Regions from separate parts of the Homo sapiens genome. Here region 1 is linked to region 2. Evidence: fine-mapped expression QTL. A gene starts in region 2. The other region holds a variant in brackets. All regions are shown on one strand. Distances are from middle to middle.

The links. PIP is the estimated chance that this variant, and not a neighbour inherited with it, causes the effect.
Region 1: its variant is fine-mapped to the expression of VIPR1 in whole blood (TOPMed, PIP above 0.99).

Annotation. Positions count from the first base shown.
Region 1 is chr3:42,523,258-42,531,579 of GRCh38, forward strand. VIPR1 (vasoactive intestinal peptide receptor 1) reads left to right here. Exons shown (of 13, transcript NM_004624.4): 4 at 2,630-2,736; 5 at 4,136-4,239; 6 at 4,734-4,866; 7 at 7,522-7,675; 8 at 8,214-8,274. It overlaps VIPR1-AS1 (VIPR1 antisense RNA 1), which reads right to left. Exons shown (of 3, transcript NR_046654.1): 3 at 7,639-7,701. Among named protein-coding and RNA genes, the nearest start is that of VIPR1-AS1, 5.2 kb to the right of the region's middle. RefSeq lists a silencer at 1,387-1,557. The variant C/G (reference allele first, on the strand shown) is at 3,951.
Region 2 is chr3:42,498,631-42,506,907 of GRCh38, forward strand. It overlaps VIPR1 (vasoactive intestinal peptide receptor 1), which reads left to right and starts at 4,013. Exons shown (of 13, transcript NM_004624.4): 1 at 4,013-4,183. The coding sequence starts at 4,106. RefSeq lists an enhancer at 2,511-3,084 and silencers at 3,612-3,711, 3,772-4,271.

The DNA of each region.
Region 1 (8,322 bases), 25 kb after region 2:
CTTGAGAGCAGCTTGCTATGAGGCCTTGACCACAATCCCAGGGCTCTTCAAAGAGACCACCTGGCCCCAGAGATGACCCATTGTCCCCTCCCCTCCTCTCCTTCACCATCTATGGCAGCCAGGGCTCCAGAAAACAGAGTATCCCTTTGGCCGCTGCTGGGAGCCCAGAAAGATCTGGAGTCAGGCAGACCTTGGTCTGCATCCCACCTGCTGCTCCCTTGCTGTGTGACCATGGGCAAATGACTTAACCTCTCTTAGCCTTGGGATCCCCATTTTTTGATGGGATAACAAAAACTACCAATTCCTAGCCCTAACACATTAATGTTTACCCTAACACCTCCGCCACTACACACACACACACACACACACACACACACACACACGGCATGTGAAGCTGCTGTGTACATGCCAGAGTCACCCAGGTTTGCTGGCATAATTCATGATACCAGATGCTTGCCATGTCATTGGGCCTGGCCTCCTCAAGCCCCGGTCCCTCTGGTGAGTAGGGAGCCCAAAGCTCCAGTGTCCCAGCTTCAAGGCTGGGTGATTTTGGCCTTAATCCTCTTTTTTTTTTCCCTGAGTCGGAGTTTTACTCTGTCACCCAGGTGGGAGTGCAGTGGTGTGATCTCGGCTCACTGCAACCTCCACCTCCTGGGTTCAAGCGATTCTCCTGCCTCAGCCTCCTGAGTAGCTGGGACTACAGGTGTGTGCCACCACTCCCAGATAATTTTTGTATTTTTAGTAAAGACAGGGTTTCACTATGTTGGCCAGGCTGATCTTGAACTCTGACCTCGTGATCTGCCTGCCTTGGCCTACCAAACTGCTGGGATTACAGGCATGAGCCACCGCACCCAGCCCTTAACCCTGTTTTCTACCTGCCTGAGCCTTGTAGGGGGAAGTCCTCAAATGAATCAGATTGTGGGTGGGATCCAGGGCCTCAGAGCCTGCAGTTAGCTCCCTGGAACTGGGGCTGAGGAAGAGCCTACCCTTTGATGAGGGGCTGGGCTGAAGGCTCTGGGCCAGGCCCACCTCTGGCTGCAATGATGGGAAGCTGAGAGGGGCGCAGAAGGACAGCTGAAGGCTTTTCTGCTGTCCTAGGAGCCTCTTGCAACAGTGAGGTTGGGAGCCCAGGGCAGAAAAAGGGATGCCAAGGCAGGAAACTGGCCCAGTCCAATGCCCCCTCCTCAACCAAATCCATCCTGCCCTCCCTGGGCCATGCGGTGGAAATAGACCCAGCCCACGGCTGCTCTTTCCTGGCTGTCCCATCCCCACCCCTAGCTGTCCCTCAGTTCTTCATCCATGAAGTAGGGTGACAAGACCTCTTTCCAAGGGTTGCCAGGAGGATTTACAGAAATGGTGAATATGGAATCACCTGGTATATTCCGGGCATACGGCAAAGTTTGGAAATAAACACACGTGCCCAGTGACACTTCCTGAGCTCATAGAACAGCTTGACCCTCCTGCAGCTCTTTATCTGGTCACCGAAATAAGTCCTCAGGTCACCTCCATGCAGGTGAGAACCAAGCTTACCTGGGAAGACTCTGGAGACCAAATCAGCTCTATCCTGTCCTCTCTATGTAGCCTTGGGCAAGTAACCAACCTCTTGGGGCCTCCACTTCTTAACTGTGAAATGGAGTTAACTTCCTCACTGGATGATTGAGGAAATTAAACAGGATGTGCCTAAAGTGCTTGACCAGCACTGACATTTGAAAAGTACTCAAAACCTGTCATTGTGATGAGGCTGACAACAGTGATGCTGCTGATGCTGCTCATGGTGACTATGGCGGTGGTGGTGGTGGTGATGAACGGGTACTGAGATGGGGAAGCGTGATTCTTCTCTGGCTCATCTAATTTCTATTCAACCCATCCTCTCCCTCTCTGGGGAGAGGACACCTCCCCAGTGCTGGAGAGTGGGGAGCCTCAGTGGTACCCCTCACCTCACATACCCCCTAAGCGGTCCTGTCTCTTTGCTGCAGCTTCAAGCCTCTGAGGACAGTGGACAGTGCAGCTTGCCTGGAGCCTCAGCCTCTGCTTGTTTCAGCCCCAAGCTCCTGCCATGCTGTGCTGCCTGATTCCCCCTCACATGCCTTTGCCTGCACAGGTTCCCCAACCCCACCCCTCCTCACCCCCACACTCCTGCTCCCCCTCCAGCAGCACATCTAAGCCCTTCCAGGTGTGAGAAGAAACCCAGCCCCACAGGCCCAGGCAGGCTGACTGAGGAGGACCGGGCAGGCCTGGGCCCCTTCCCCCAGCCGTGGCCTTGTGACAAGGGTCAGCATTCTGCTCACGGCAAGGGTCAGGAATCATTCTGTGACAAGGATCCAGGCAGGGTCTGTGACAAGGATAAGAGTGTATGTTGTACTTGGGGTCAGGTTCAGACCATAACAAAAGGGCTGAGCCCAAGAATGTCTGCTCTGATTCTATCATCGGTGCGGGAGCCCTGAAGAGGCTTCTCCCTGCCCCAGGTGCCCCCACGGTGCCCTGGGTAACTGGGTCAGGGCAGCTGGAACCTGACAGCACCAGGGTTGGTGGGAGTAGGGCTGAATTCTCTGCCTTGTTCCAAGCAGAGACAGCCAGGTCCCCATGCTCCCGGCCTCAGCCTTTGTCCTTGCCCCTGCCCTCCACCCAGGCCGCAATGTAAGCCGCAGCTGCACCGACGAAGGCTGGACGCACCTGGAGCCTGGCCCGTACCCCATTGCCTGTGGTTTGGATGACAAGGCAGCGAGTTTGGATGAGGTGGGTCTCAGGGCACCCCCACCTCACCTGCAGAGCGCCGGGGCCCACCTAGGAGACTTTGATCTCTCCCACCGAGGGGTGTGGTTGCTGTCTGTGTGGGAACAGGACTCCTGGAGTCTGCCCTCCTCTAGCCTCCTCCAGGCCTGCCTTTCTGGGGTCCCAACCCTTGGCTCCCCCTGACAGGGTATGGGAGGAGGCTTTCCCACAGGAGGGGCCCCCAGAGCAGCAAAAGCTGAAGCAGCTCCCCCAGGCTGGGCCACCCTACTGCCTCATGGGAACCTCACTTCAGCCCGGGAGTTGGCAGGGCAGGCAGACACCAGCACCCCATCCCATCCAGAGGGGAAACCGAGTTGCTGCAGGTCCTGGAAGGAACCAGACTTGGCTACCAAATAGCCAGTCAGGAACAGGGACAGAGCCTGTCATTCTCAGTCCCAGGACAGATATCTTCCCCGGAGCAGTTAAAACATGGTCTCTGTAAAGACTGGGGAGCCTGGTAAGGACATTGATGGGGAGGCTGGAGTCCTCAGCTAGGAGCCCCTCACTGCTTTGGGGTGCAAATGCATGTGTGTGTGTCTGTCTGCGATGGCATCTGCCCCACCCTCAGGCGCCCTTCTCAGACCGGGCTTTCACTCCACCCACCCCCGAGGACAGCAATTTCTTCAGAGGCCTTTGAAGCCCACTGGAGCTATAGGCCCTCATTCCCCCTTAACCACTTGCCTCTCCTCAGGCAAGCGTGGGAGGCTGACAGGAAGGAGTGGCTTGCCTAGTGGCTGTCGTGCTGCACTGCACCTGTGTCCATGGGGAGGGCATCAGGAGAGGGGACCAAGCGAGACACCCTCGGGGCCTAGCTTTGCCCTCCTCCACCGGAAAGGCCAGACTGCCCTCATCCCACCGACCCCAACTCCCAAGGGCCCAAAATGGGACATACTAGTGCCAGTGTCTTCTTCGACATCCCGCAACCTCGCATACCTCTCCTCCCTATACAGAGACAGGGCCTCGAGGGGTGTCTGAAGGGCAAGCAGACCCCACCCCTAGGGTGCCCAGCTCAGAGCTGGCACAGAAGGGAAGCCGGGCACATGGCTGGAGACATGAAATTAACAAAAGGGACGTGCAAGGTCTTCATTCTCTCCCTCACCAACTTGTCCCTCGTAAAGAAGCAAAGACAGGAAGTACATTCAACCCCCACCCCACCCTAAGACACAGTCCTGCCCTGT[C/G]TGTAGAAACCAGGGCGTTAGGGGTCAGGGGCTCAGCTGCTCTTGGGAGCCCCAGACCTCAGCCTCCTCATTTGCTGAGGCAGGGTTGGGCAGGCAGAGTGTGTAGGGCACCCCACCCCTGCCAATACCCCCTAGATGAGCCTCCCACCCCACCACCCAAGAGCCTCTCCCTGTCCCTCCAACAGCAGCAGACCATGTTCTACGGTTCTGTGAAGACCGGCTACACCATTGGCTACGGCCTGTCCCTCGCCACCCTTCTGGTCGCCACAGCTATCCTGAGCCTGTTCAGGTGAGGCCCAGCCCAAGTCACAGGCCTCAAAGCAAACCTGGCAAGTGTCCCTCCCACAGTGGAGCCCAGCGTGGCCCAGGCGTGCCCCGACCCCTCCACTGTTGCCCCCCAGCAGCACATACTCCCCAGCTCCTGCCAGGCCAGCTTCCCCTGGAGAAGGCAGGTGGCTGAGCTCTTCCATGTGTTGCAGCCTAGTCTCCCCTAGGATGGCCCTGCACCTGGGGACAGGGCACCAGAGAGTGGGGCCTGCACACAGGAATGAGGCTTCTGGGGCCACACACGAGGTTGAGGCCCTTGGGAGCCCAGTTGCACAGGTGGATGGGGTACCTGGGGGTGGGGCTCGTATTTCAGGATGGGATCCCCTTTGAGGCGGGGCCTGCCCTCTGGAGGACACATGCTCCCCTGCCCCACCCTTGCTCAGCACATAGGACAGCATTGGCTGGGGTGGGGATCCAAGGCCCCTTTGGCCTCCCAGATCTGCCCACCCCACACAGGAAGCTCCACTGCACGCGGAACTACATCCACATGCACCTCTTCATATCCTTCATCCTGAGGGCTGCCGCTGTCTTCATCAAAGACTTGGCCCTCTTCGACAGCGGGGAGTCGGACCAGTGCTCCGAGGGCTCGGTGAGGATCCTGGCCCTGGCCCACCTCCCTCAGTCTCGCCGTTATCTTTAACCACTGTAATCTCCTCTTCTCCCCCTGCTTCTCCCTCTCCCTCCTCCCTCTTCCCTCCCACCCCACCCCTCAATCCAAGGATAGCCTAACCCCCACCCAACCCCACCTGGCAGTACTCAAATCACACTCCCCTCCGGCAACAGGAGATGTTGCTCACCCATCTGGGTGCTCACAGACCTGCCGCCGCCAGTGAGAAAAGCAGATGGGAAATGGGACACTTCATGGCCACAGCCCAGAGCACCTGTCCCACCTGTTGCTAACTTCCTATGTGGCCTTGGGGAACTTACAGCCTCAGTTTCCCCATCTGTGCAAGGAATTCCAAGATTCCTTCCAACTCTGCCATCTGCCACCTGCATAGCCAGGGCTCTGCTCACCATGCCACTTTTCCTACTCCCCCCGTCCCCGTGCCATCTGGAGTGGGTCCATACATATGCAGTCCTCCTCTTTTGTTCTGATCCTGACAGCAGGCTGGTTCTGGGCCTTCCTAGGGAAGAGAGGTAAAGGGATCATCTAAGGAATTCATTGCCAGTCACTAAGGGGGCCATCTCCAAGGGATTCTTAGGGACCCTCTCTGAGTGCCCCAAGCTTTGACAGAGAGCTTGAGATCAGCCCCAGCCCCCACTCATTCCTTGTGGTCAGTAACTCATTGCTTCATGCATGACCCCAGAGGCAGTGCATTATATCAGGGGTCAGCAGTACCTTCTCCCCAAAGAGTGAAATGATCATACTGGAATCTCAGGCATTTCAACAAGGGGGAGAGAAAACCTAGGGGACCCACTTTGGCCATTCCCAGAGCTTCTCAGAGGTTCTGTCCCAGGAGCTGTGAGGCCAAGTCAGACATGAGCATTGTGAGCCACAGGACCTGTGGAGGAACCTGCTGCCTCCTGTGCACATGTTACGGATAATTATGGAGACTGGCTTCCCAATTCATTACTGCGAAGCTTTTCTAAGACTAGGAAGAAGCACAGATAACTGTCCTGGTAAAGAGCTGAGTTATGGCCAGACGCGGATTATGGCTCACGCCTGTAATCCCAGCACTTCTGGAGGCTGAGTTGGGCGGATCATGAGGTCAGGAGTTCAAGACCAGCCTGACCAACATGGTGAAACCCAGTCTCTACTAAAAATACAAAAATAAAAAAAATTAGCTGAGTGTGGTGGTCAGCACCTGTAATCCCAGCTACTCAGAAGGCTGAGGCAGAATAATCGTTTGAACCAAGGAGGCAGAGGTTGCAATGAGCCGAGATCATGCCATTGCACTCCAGCCTAGGTGACAGAGCAAGACTCCATCTCAAAAAAAAAAAAAAAAAAAAGAGTTATTCTCCAAAAGCAAATGGGAGGAAGATGGGGAGGCAAGAACTCCTGTAACTGGAGGGACTGAAGCGAGACCTGAGGAAGGACTTTCCAACCAAAGGGAGTGGTGGGGGCAGGGGGAGGCTTCTCTCTGAGGATGTCGCAAACCAAGGGTACAGGAAGGAAGGGTGGGAACCAATGTTTTGGGTACAGGGGGAAGTGGAAGCCAGACAGTTTCCTGGTGGAGGGTGGCTTTAAGCCCTGGCTGACAGACATCTAGGCTTGATCTGAAATGGGGGACTTTCTGGGAGGGGACAGAAGGCCCAGAATACCTTCCAGTCATGCCAAGTGGGCCACCCAGAGCCCTGTGATTGCTCTACTCATGGGTCTCCCTAACTCCTTCATGGTCCTCGTCTGCCTAAGAAACCCATTCTTCCACTCGGTCCTCTGAACCCCAGGAGGAATGGCCACCCCTCCCCTCTTCTCTTCTTCTTCATTTCTACTTCCCCCTCTTCCACCCTCTTCTCAGTCCCAGTCTCCCTCCACACTTCCATCTGGGCCCCACTCCACAGTCCACAGCCCTCCACTCCCCCACATTGAGCAGACTCTTGAAACTCAAGCAAGAATTCTCCCTCATACCTTCCAGCTACCTTCAATACAAATTGGCATTAGATGAATGAGTGGGTGGGGTGGGAGTGTGGATGGGCAGGTTGGTGGATGGCTAAGTAGGCAGCAGGATAAATGGGTTAAGTAAGGAAGATTGGACAGATGATAGGCAGAGGGGCAGGTAGGTAGATATGTGGGTGGATGCACAAGTGGATTGATGGGTGGGTGCAGAGATGAATGGATGGGTAGATGACTGAGTGGGTTGGTAGAAGAATGGAGAGATAGGTGTGTGGGTGGATGGATTGATAGATGGGAAGATGATAGATGATGGATGGACACATGGATAAAAAATGGATAAATGAGTGAGTTGATAGTGAATGTCTAGTGGGTGAGTGGGTAAATAAATGGATACATGGATAGGTGGGTAGATGATTGAATGGGCAGATGGGTAGATATATAGATGGGAAGGTGAATAGATGAATTGATGGATGGATAATTAAAATCACCAGTTTATCCCGAAGTATCAGAGGATCTAAAATTAGGGAAAATGGGAAAACCAATGAGTACATTTTTAAGGGGATAATGCAAAACAACAAAGAGATTAAGTTGGCTGCACTGCAACTGTGTTTGTCCCCCCAGACACGAGTGTGGGCAGTCAAGGACCCTTGACAGCCCCAGTGAACCCCGTCTTTTCTCCTCCCCCTGCAGGTGGGCTGTAAGGCAGCCATGGTCTTTTTCCAATATTGTGTCATGGCTAACTTCTTCTGGCTGCTGGTGGAGGGCCTCTACCTGTACACCCTGCTTGCCGTCTCCTTCTTCTCTGAGCGGAAGTACTTCTGGGGGTACATACTCATCGGCTGGGGTATGGTACCAGGGAGGGCTTCCAGGCTGGGGACAGAGGGGGCAAGGCCTGGAGAACTCCCTAGGGGGAGGGTGCCAACCCAGCTTGCAGTCCTACGTCTTGCTTAGCTGCAGGTCCTGCCTGCAAGGATATCAGCCAAGGGTCAAGAAAGTCCTCAAAATGTCTGATCCCAGGACAAGTCCCTCAGGTTGCAGCTGCACCTAGGGCTGACCTGTGGGACAGATTTTGTGAACATCTTTCCATTTCCCTTTAGTTCCCGAAATACACAGGGCCACTGCTAATCTATAAAGGGCCTCTGTCACAATTAGAAAGAGAATGTCCGTCTAGGTAGACACAGCCCTTCAGGCATACAGCTTCACCCCCTCAGTGGAGCATCCCTCCGTGGTGAACAACCTATGCAACCAAAGACAGCAGACTGACAACCCACCCTTTTCTCTCTCCCTCCCTCTCCCTGCTTTTCTCCAAAATCTCTCCCTCATGCCCTCTACCCCTGCTTCCTGTGCCCTCTCTGCTCTTTCACTCTCCCTGGGCCTGACAGGGGTACCCAGCACATTCACCATGGTGTGGACCATCGCCAGGATCCATTTTGAGGATTATGGGTGAGCTGCTGCCCCACACACTCCCCCGGCCGCCATCACTTGGGCAGG
Region 2 (8,277 bases):
ATGTCAGGATGATTCTTTCTCCATCACCTGCTCTCCCGTGAACTTGGTTTTCTTCCTAGATGCAGGTGTAGCACCAACAGAAGATCCCCCACAATCCCACACCCAAGCAGTGCTAGGCTTCCCTGCAGAGGACAGCCCATGTCTAAGACACAGTCACGTCCCCAATCCCCAGATGAGTGCGGGTGTTGAGACGTGAAGGATGAATGAATGATATTCACTGCATGCTGTTATGGAAGGGAGGAAGGGAATATTTCTTCTTTAAATGCCTGCCCAGGCCTCTCCTGCCCTCCACCAAATTACAGCCTGGAGTTAAGGTGCATCTTCTCACAGGAAGAACTGGCCCCAAAAGAAGGTGCACCCTGGGGAGGTGGTGATCACTCCATGTTGCCAGAGCTACCAGCCCCGCTCTATGGATAAAGACCAAAAGTGTAGGTCCCTTCAACTCAGAAGCCCGGAGAAAGCAAATGTTGCCTGCATCCAGACAGCAACGTGGGTGGCTCTGGCAGGGGAATCCTAGAGCAGTGACTCCCCCAGCCAGGTGGTTTCCTCACCATCTCCTAGCCTGGCCTCCAGCGTACAGGTCAAGGCCACTCTGTGGCCCCCCCAGCCCCCTTCCCACTCCACCACAGAACCTCACCACCATGGAGCCCCTGAGCTGGAAGCCTTGAAGGCAGTGAGTGCACGATTCTGAGAGGAGGCGAGGGCGGCACACAGCGCATGGATGAGACAGGCAGGAAGCCAGGCAGGCTCAGAATGAGTAACTGCAGATTCTCTTTGTGCCATGCCTGTTGTCACGGGGGATGGCAAGTGACTCCACTTCTCTCTCTTTCCCGCCACCTCCCGTGTCCTTGGCACCCATGTGATTCTGACATCCAGAAGGGATATGAGATGGTGCTAGAGACTAGGGACAGGTTTTAGGGATCCCAGAGGGGAGACTTCAGAACAGACCCCCCCAGGGAGGAATCCATGCAAGAAGGACATGGGGGAACAGAGAGTAGGAGGCGACTATGGCTCTCCTCCTCAAGCCTGGACTGGGAAGGCAAGGCAGACTCCAGAGGGGCTTAGGCTTTGGACAGGGTGGGGAGATTGGGACCACAGGCTTCCCACTCCCTCAGGTAGTCCGTCGGCCCCCCCTCTGCTTCTGACATCCCTCTTCCTCCAAGAAGCCTTCCCAGATCAACTGGGTGCACAAAAGGATGGCTTCCTCAGCAGATTCTACAGGACTCCCCAAGAGTGGGCCCACGGTTGACCCCCTTCCCCCCAGTGCTTCAGAACACAGGACAGGACATTCGGGAGCAATTAGTTGAAACACAGTCACATTTAATGTTGGTTGAATTTTTTAGGTTTTTGTTTGGTTTTGCTATTTTCTTTCTGCTCTTTTCATTTCTGAATATGTTTTGTGCCCTTTGATAGGTAAGGAAGGGTGGATCCCCCAGGAGAACAATTCTGAAAGAACAAAGAAGTGATGTTTATTCCGAAGAATCTGCAAGGAAACAATTATTTCTGATTCACCTACTCCCTTCCGGGGAGCAAGGCCTGCAAAGGCATCAGATGCCTTCCCAGCCACTCACTGCCTCCAACCTGGCCATCCAGCCCTCCAACAGAGGAGAGGAAGGGTAGTGTGGGCCCCCCTCCAGAGCCAGGGGAAGGCAACCCATCCCCACTGGTAGCCAGTCCCTCTCCCTCCCTCCCCACCCTGCCCACCAGCCATTCACTGGTGGGTCACATGGCAAAGTGAGGTCTGCCTCTCCAATCCTCACACCCATCATATACCCTCAAGTGTCCAAGAACCTTGTCCTCCAGGAGAGCAGGAGAACTTCAACAACCCTGGGGGCATGACACATTAATGATAGGATTTCAGCATCCTGCAGCTGGCTAGGTGCTGTGTGTGTATGTATGTGTTGAGGAGTGAGGGCTGAGGATTCATGACACCCCAAACCCACAGGTTTGCTCTTCACATCTAGGGCTCCTAGGACACCATGCCAGCACAAGTAACTTCCCAGGAAAAAGACACAATTCCACTGTCCTGCCAGGGAACTGAGACCCGAGACGGGGTACACAGGGTCATAAGGAGAGACAAAGACCCCTGATTTCTGAGCTAACAGCAGCCGTCAGGGGTGTGGATAGCTGAGGAGATGGCTGAGGATGATTCAAACACTCCCGCCATTGGGAGATCGAGTACAAACCCAAGAAAGGCTAGGACAGAGGCATCTCCACAGCTCCCAAATCTAAGGAAAGGCCTGTGTCCAGCCTCACTGATTATATCGGGAAGGAGGTAGAAATTGCAGGGAGTACAGTAGCTCCCCAAGTTCCCCTCATGGCAAGGGGATGCTGCCCATCCACCTCTGTGCCCCCAGTGCACAGCACAGGGCCTGGCACACAGAAAGAGATTAATAAATGTGCATGGAAGAAAGGAGGGAGGGGCTCCATGGTGGCGAGGTTCCCTTTAATGAAGGGAAGGAGGAGAGGGAGGAAAGGGAAAAAGAGCAAGTGCAGGGGATGGAATGCTGGAAGGGAGGAAGAAAGAAGAGAAAGAAGAGAGAGTGGAAAGAAAGTGTAAGTACGCCCTGAAGAAAGGGCCAGGGCACTCATCCCTTCCCGGCTTTCCCCCACTCCCCTCAAGCCCACCCCATGGCAGCATCCCAACGTTCCCTCTCTGTAGGGAGGGAAGCCCTGGTGGGTCCTCAGGGAGCTCCTGCGCGCCTGCTGTTCAGCCAAAGCCTAGCGCGGGACCTCCTTCAGGTAGCCGCACATTCTGCTCAGGGCTCTGGGACCCGCTGCCCTCTCCGCCTCTCCACTGAACTCCGCCTCTCCTTCTGTCACACGGCTCCGCCAGCCACTCTATCCTGCCGCCGCGACCACATCTCCAGCCTCGATTGTGCAGGCTCGAGCCCGTAGAAAGAGGGCTAGCAGCCACCTGCGCTTGGTCCACAAGAAGACGCGCTCCCAGGGCGCAGAGCTGGTGACCCCGCTCCCCATGCCAGGGACGAATAAACGAGAAAAGGGGCTGACCCGGTGTCACCCAGCGGCCGAGCAGCCGCCCCTTGGAAGCTCAGCACCAAAGGCAGGCGGCCAGGGTCCTGGCCCCTCTCTGGACCCCAGTATCCCCAGCTGTAAAATAGGGAATGCAGGAGGAGGACGACGTCTGTGGATCGTTTTAGGTCAGCTGCGGAGTCGGCCTGCGGGCTGGGAGCAGACCTCGCTCCCCACGCGAGGGCGCTGGCACTTCAGCCCAGCCTCCCTGGGGAGGTGCCCTGGACGAGACCCGCGAGGGTGCGGACACCTCATCCTCCCTGGAGCAGGTCTCCCGAGGCTTGAAGGGCCAGGGCACCCAACAGGTGCTGAGCGCGCCCCACCAGGTCACCCGGGAGCAGGGAACACCAAGGAACCCAGAGTCGGGCCTCTTTCGAGCCCTCGCTTCCTCTCGCCTGGCTTCTTCGGCGCGAAGGATGAATTGGGGTTGTTGAAAATTGATCAAACAACCCGATCTCTGTCAGCGCCTGGACACTTGCTGGGCCCCAGCTCGCAGCCTGGGAAGATAAGTGGCACTTCCTGTCTCGTAATCGGATTTGCGCGCACGAACCCTCGGAGACGCACAGGTGGGAAATGGGGAGGCTGGCGGGGAGGCCTCCTGGAGGAGGTGGCTCCGAGGGTAGACATGAGGAGCGCCCTGGGATGGGGCTGAGGGTGGATACAGAGGTGGGAGCTTGCGAAGGTCGTGAGCTAAGCATGGAAGGATGGAATGTGTTCGGGTCTCGAGATTCCCGGGTGATGAGCCCGGAGGGGCGAAGGCCTATAAATGTCTCACGACGGAAGACCAAGGTGTGGGATTGGCAAAGAGAGAGCAGAGCTTCCTCACTGGCAGGGGCTCCCCAGCCCCGCCCCATACCTGCGCGGCGGCCCCGCCTCCACCCATCCATTGGCTAGATCCGCCGCCCGTCAGACGAGCCCCCGGGGCCCGCCCCCAGCCCTGAGCTGCGCCTCTTAGCTCTGGGGCCACAGCGCCAGCGCCACTCTGCCAGGCTCCCGGCCATCGCCCGCCTGGTGCGCCGCCCGCCAGCTCTTTGCCCGCGCGGGGCCGCCCGCCGCGGGCTCAGGGCAGACCATGCGCCCGCCAAGTCCGCTGCCCGCCCGCTGGCTATGCGTGCTGGCAGGCGCCCTCGCCTGGGCCCTTGGGCCGGCGGTGAGTGTTCGCCCGGCCGCCCAGAGTCCCGGCAGCCTGGGGGTTGCGGAGGGCGGGGGAGGTGGGGGATGGCGGGAGCCGGGCCGTCTGTGCGCGTGTCTGTGTAAGAGGAATAGGGGACATCAAGCATCTCGACTCGCCTCCTCCCACCGCTCCAGACCGAACCTAGACGCGAGGGCTGGGATATTGGTCGTGCCCAGTCCCTCCCAGCGCAGCCCGGAGCAGGCACAGCATCAGTGGAGGGGCAGCGGGGAAGAGTGGGCCCCAGACTTGCCTTCCTTGTCGTGGTTGTGGGTGCGCAGCGGGGTGGGGCGGCCAGTGGGTGCAGAGTCAGGTACTGCGGCCGATTGAGATGGAAGGTTTGGTACACCGTAGGTGAGAGGGAGGATGTGAGGGGCCGTTCTTGTGTGCTGTGACCGTCTGGAGGTGCCTGTGGGCTGTCAGCATCAGAACCAGTGCTGGGGGCCCCAGGACTTGAGAAGGGGTTCTTGGGATCAGGTGAGTGACAGGCACATCCCTCCGTGTGCCCTCCCACTGAGCAAAGCAAAAAGGTACCAGACCCCAAGGTGGAAGCTGGTGGGCAGTGAGGGGCTAAGGGTGGTGGTTAACAGGAGGGGCCAGGCCTGTACATGGAGAGAGCTGAGCAGGGAGCCAATGCCAACAAGCAGTGGCCTCCCTCTTCCTCCCACTTCTGCTTCCTCTCAACGTGGGTATGTGTATGCCCTTGATACATGTGTACTCGTGTGCCCCATGTGTGGGTGTGATATGTGTTCCTGTGGATGGCTTACCTGGGCTGGGAGGCAGATGCTGATTGAGGCAGGAGATGCATGGATCATCTCACTCTAGAACAGGGGAGACCTCAGCACTCATTGAGTCTACTGAAGCCCATTTTACAGATGGGCAAAGCGAGGTCCAGAGACACAAGAGCCACATCTGTCTCCCACCAGTTAGACCTAGACAAAGGTTGATTTTCTCCCTACCCCAGACTTTGAGTAATCTAGAGTTGCTGCTTAGGCAGGGCCTTAAATGCCCACTCCAAGTTGGCTGGGGGAGGGTGAGGAATCTTGATTATCTAGTTCATTCTCTCCCATGGTCACTTCCCTTACCATCACCTCCACCAGAGCAGGTATCTCTGTGTTTCCATCTAGCGGATGTCTTGAGCACCCTGGGAATGGGAAGCTCATTGCCTGTCCTAGGAGCGGACCTCTGACAATTGGCAGGAGCCTCACCTCCACCCATGACAGCCATGAGACCCACCTCCTGAGCACTCAAAATCTTACCAAGCTCTGTCCCAGAGGCCACAGCTCTGGCACAACTTGCATGAAGCCTTCAGGCCTCTCCAACCACCATCTGGCCCTCCCAACCCCAGGTTCAAGCCACTCAAACTCTTCTTGGATGAACCGGGGATCTTGGGACCACTGTTGTCACCCCATTCCTCCATCCCGAGAAGCTTCTGAGCCCAGGGGCAGAGTGGATTCAGAGAGGTCTCCTTTCACACCAGGCCACTTCTACTTCACACTTCCTGAGACAGCCCAAATCTGTCTCCTCCCTCCAATGCCTACCCTCCCCCTGTCTTTCCACATCTTATTCGTTTAGTGCCCAACTCTATCTCCTCCTCCAGACAGCCTTCCCTGATTGCTCCAGCCAACTCAACCCTTCCCCCTCTAACCCCACCCTTCAGCCCTACCCACCTCCCAGGCTGGGCTATTCTGGCCATCCTATAAGGTCAGGGGCTGGGGTCTCTTACATCCCCATGTTTCTTACAGCCCAGTGCAGGGGCTGGGTCCACAGAGAGAGGAGAAGGGACTCAACCAGGACTGGGTGAGGGCAGGCTGGAGTGAGGGGTCCCTATTTCCCTCCCTGATTCTCCCTCCTCCCCACCAGCTACCAATCGCTCCCTCATGGAATGGGGCAAACCTGCTCTAGCCGGACTCGGTGTGACGGCGGGGTGGGGGGGCGGGGTGACAGGAGTTATCAGAGTCATAAAATGGCAGCTGCAAAGTTCAAGTTGAAGGCCCAAGGCCTTATCACTCCTGTTTATGGTGCCCTGACTTCAGCCTGGGAAGGAGAAATCTCTGAAAAGGGAGGCAAAAAAAAAAAAAAAAAAAAAAAAGGAAAGAAAACCTCCAGTGTCTCAGAGGAGGAAGTCTGCCCCAAGGCCACCTGTCAAGCCTTCCACTGCCCCTGCCCCCCGGACAGCAGGCACAGGGACTCCTCATCCAGAAGCAGAGCTGCTCAGGGCAATGCCCAGTACGAGGCTGGGGGAGGAGGGTCACAGGCCTCCTCGTGGGAAATTCTCTATCTGGTGTGGGAGACCAGACCCAGTGACTTAGGAGAAAGAGTCCAGGTGGATGTGGGGTACAGCCTCCTAGAACTGGGGCAGGGGTTGCTGAGAGGAACAGTCAGGGGAGGCTCCTGGAAGAAGCAGGACTGTGCCCTAAAGAGTTTGACCAGATGGGCCAATCTTTCACCCTAAACCATAAAACAGCCTCTGTTGACAGGACCAATGGGCCTGCCCCCAGAAGGAGGAGTCCCAGGGACTGGGAGAGGCTCGACTTCTCCCCAACTCTGAGGTTGATCAGTGGCCACAAGCTCCTGAAGGCCTTGCCTTGCCACCGGCATCCTGCTGCCCCTGCCACCTGCCTCTAGCCTCTCCAGAGGCGGACCACAGCTGCCCAGGCCCTCTTGGCCCCCAGCAGGCCACCCTGTGAGCTTTGGGAAACATGGCTGCATCTGGGTCAGGCCTCCTCCTCAAGTGAGGTTACCACCTCAGTTAGGCCTGGCCAGGGCTCCCAGGGTACCATGCTGGAAAAGCGAGCCCTTTTGGAAGTTTCTACCCTCCTGTCCTGGTGCACTAAGACTATGCCTTCTCTGAGGTTTGTGGGACATCCTTGGGGAGCCCAGGCTGGAAACAGGAGAGCTGGTCCTCACTCCACTCCATGGCAATGGCTTGACCTTGGGAACATCTTTAACTTTTGTGGAAGGGCCTCGGGTTCCTCACCACAAAAGGGAAGGTGAGAGGCCTCCGCCCAGTGTGCAGGAGAAGTGGGAGGAGAGGGTTAGGCTGGAGCCAACTCTGCCTCCTGAGTGGGACATAATCTACCCCTGGAGCACCAGGGTCTCTGTGAAAGGGGGTTTGTCTTTCAAGCAGGACTTCTGTGAGCTTTGAAGGAGGTAAAGGTTGTGAAGGTGGCTATGTGAACTGTGTGACTGTCATCCCTTCTCCTACGTCCCCAGCTTGGGAGCCCTGTGCAAACTTATACAGCTATTTCTGGCCCCCATCTTCCCACAGGTTCCCAGGGCAGCAGGAGTCCTGGGGAATGGGGGACGTTTCCTCATTAGGTGGCCAAAACATTTTGGGGGTAAGGCTCCAGGCCTAGGTAGGCAATGGGGCCTCTCAGAGCAGATGGGCCTTCACAACGTGGGCAGCCTCAGTGGAAATCCAACATGGGCCATGAGACCAGGGTAGGGGCTCTAACCTGCCACGTGCCACAACTCTGCCATTGCTGGGCCCTTCACTGTGGCTCCTTTGGCCATGGAGCAGGGAATGGGGCCTGGGGACTATGTAAAGCCTAGTCCCTTTCTTAAATCCTTCTGTTCAACCCCCAGATTCTGCCTTCCCCTCTCTGACTTCTTAACACAAAATGATTTTTATTGTACCCATTGAAAATGTCAGTATGTACTCTCTCACATAACTTAGAAGTATTTCCTTTTTTTCTTTTTTTTCTTTTTGAGATGGAGTCTTGCTCTGTCACCCAGGCTGGAGTGTGGTGGTGTGATCTTGGCTCACTGCAACCTCCAGCTTCCAGGTTTAAGCGATTCTTCTGGCTCAGCCTCCCTAGGAGCTGAGATTACAGGCTCCCGCCACCATGCCTGGCTAAATTTTGTATTTTTAGTAGAGACAGGGTTTCGCCATGTTGGCCAGGCTGCTCTTGAACTCCTGGCTTCAGGTGATCCACCTGCCTCAGCCTCCCAAAGTGCTTGGAATTACAAGCATGAGTCACCACGCCTGGCCCCTTAGAAGTATTTCTGAAGAAGAAAAAAACAGTTTAATCTCTCCACCACGTGTATAGTGTTTTAAATTTTTACTTTTT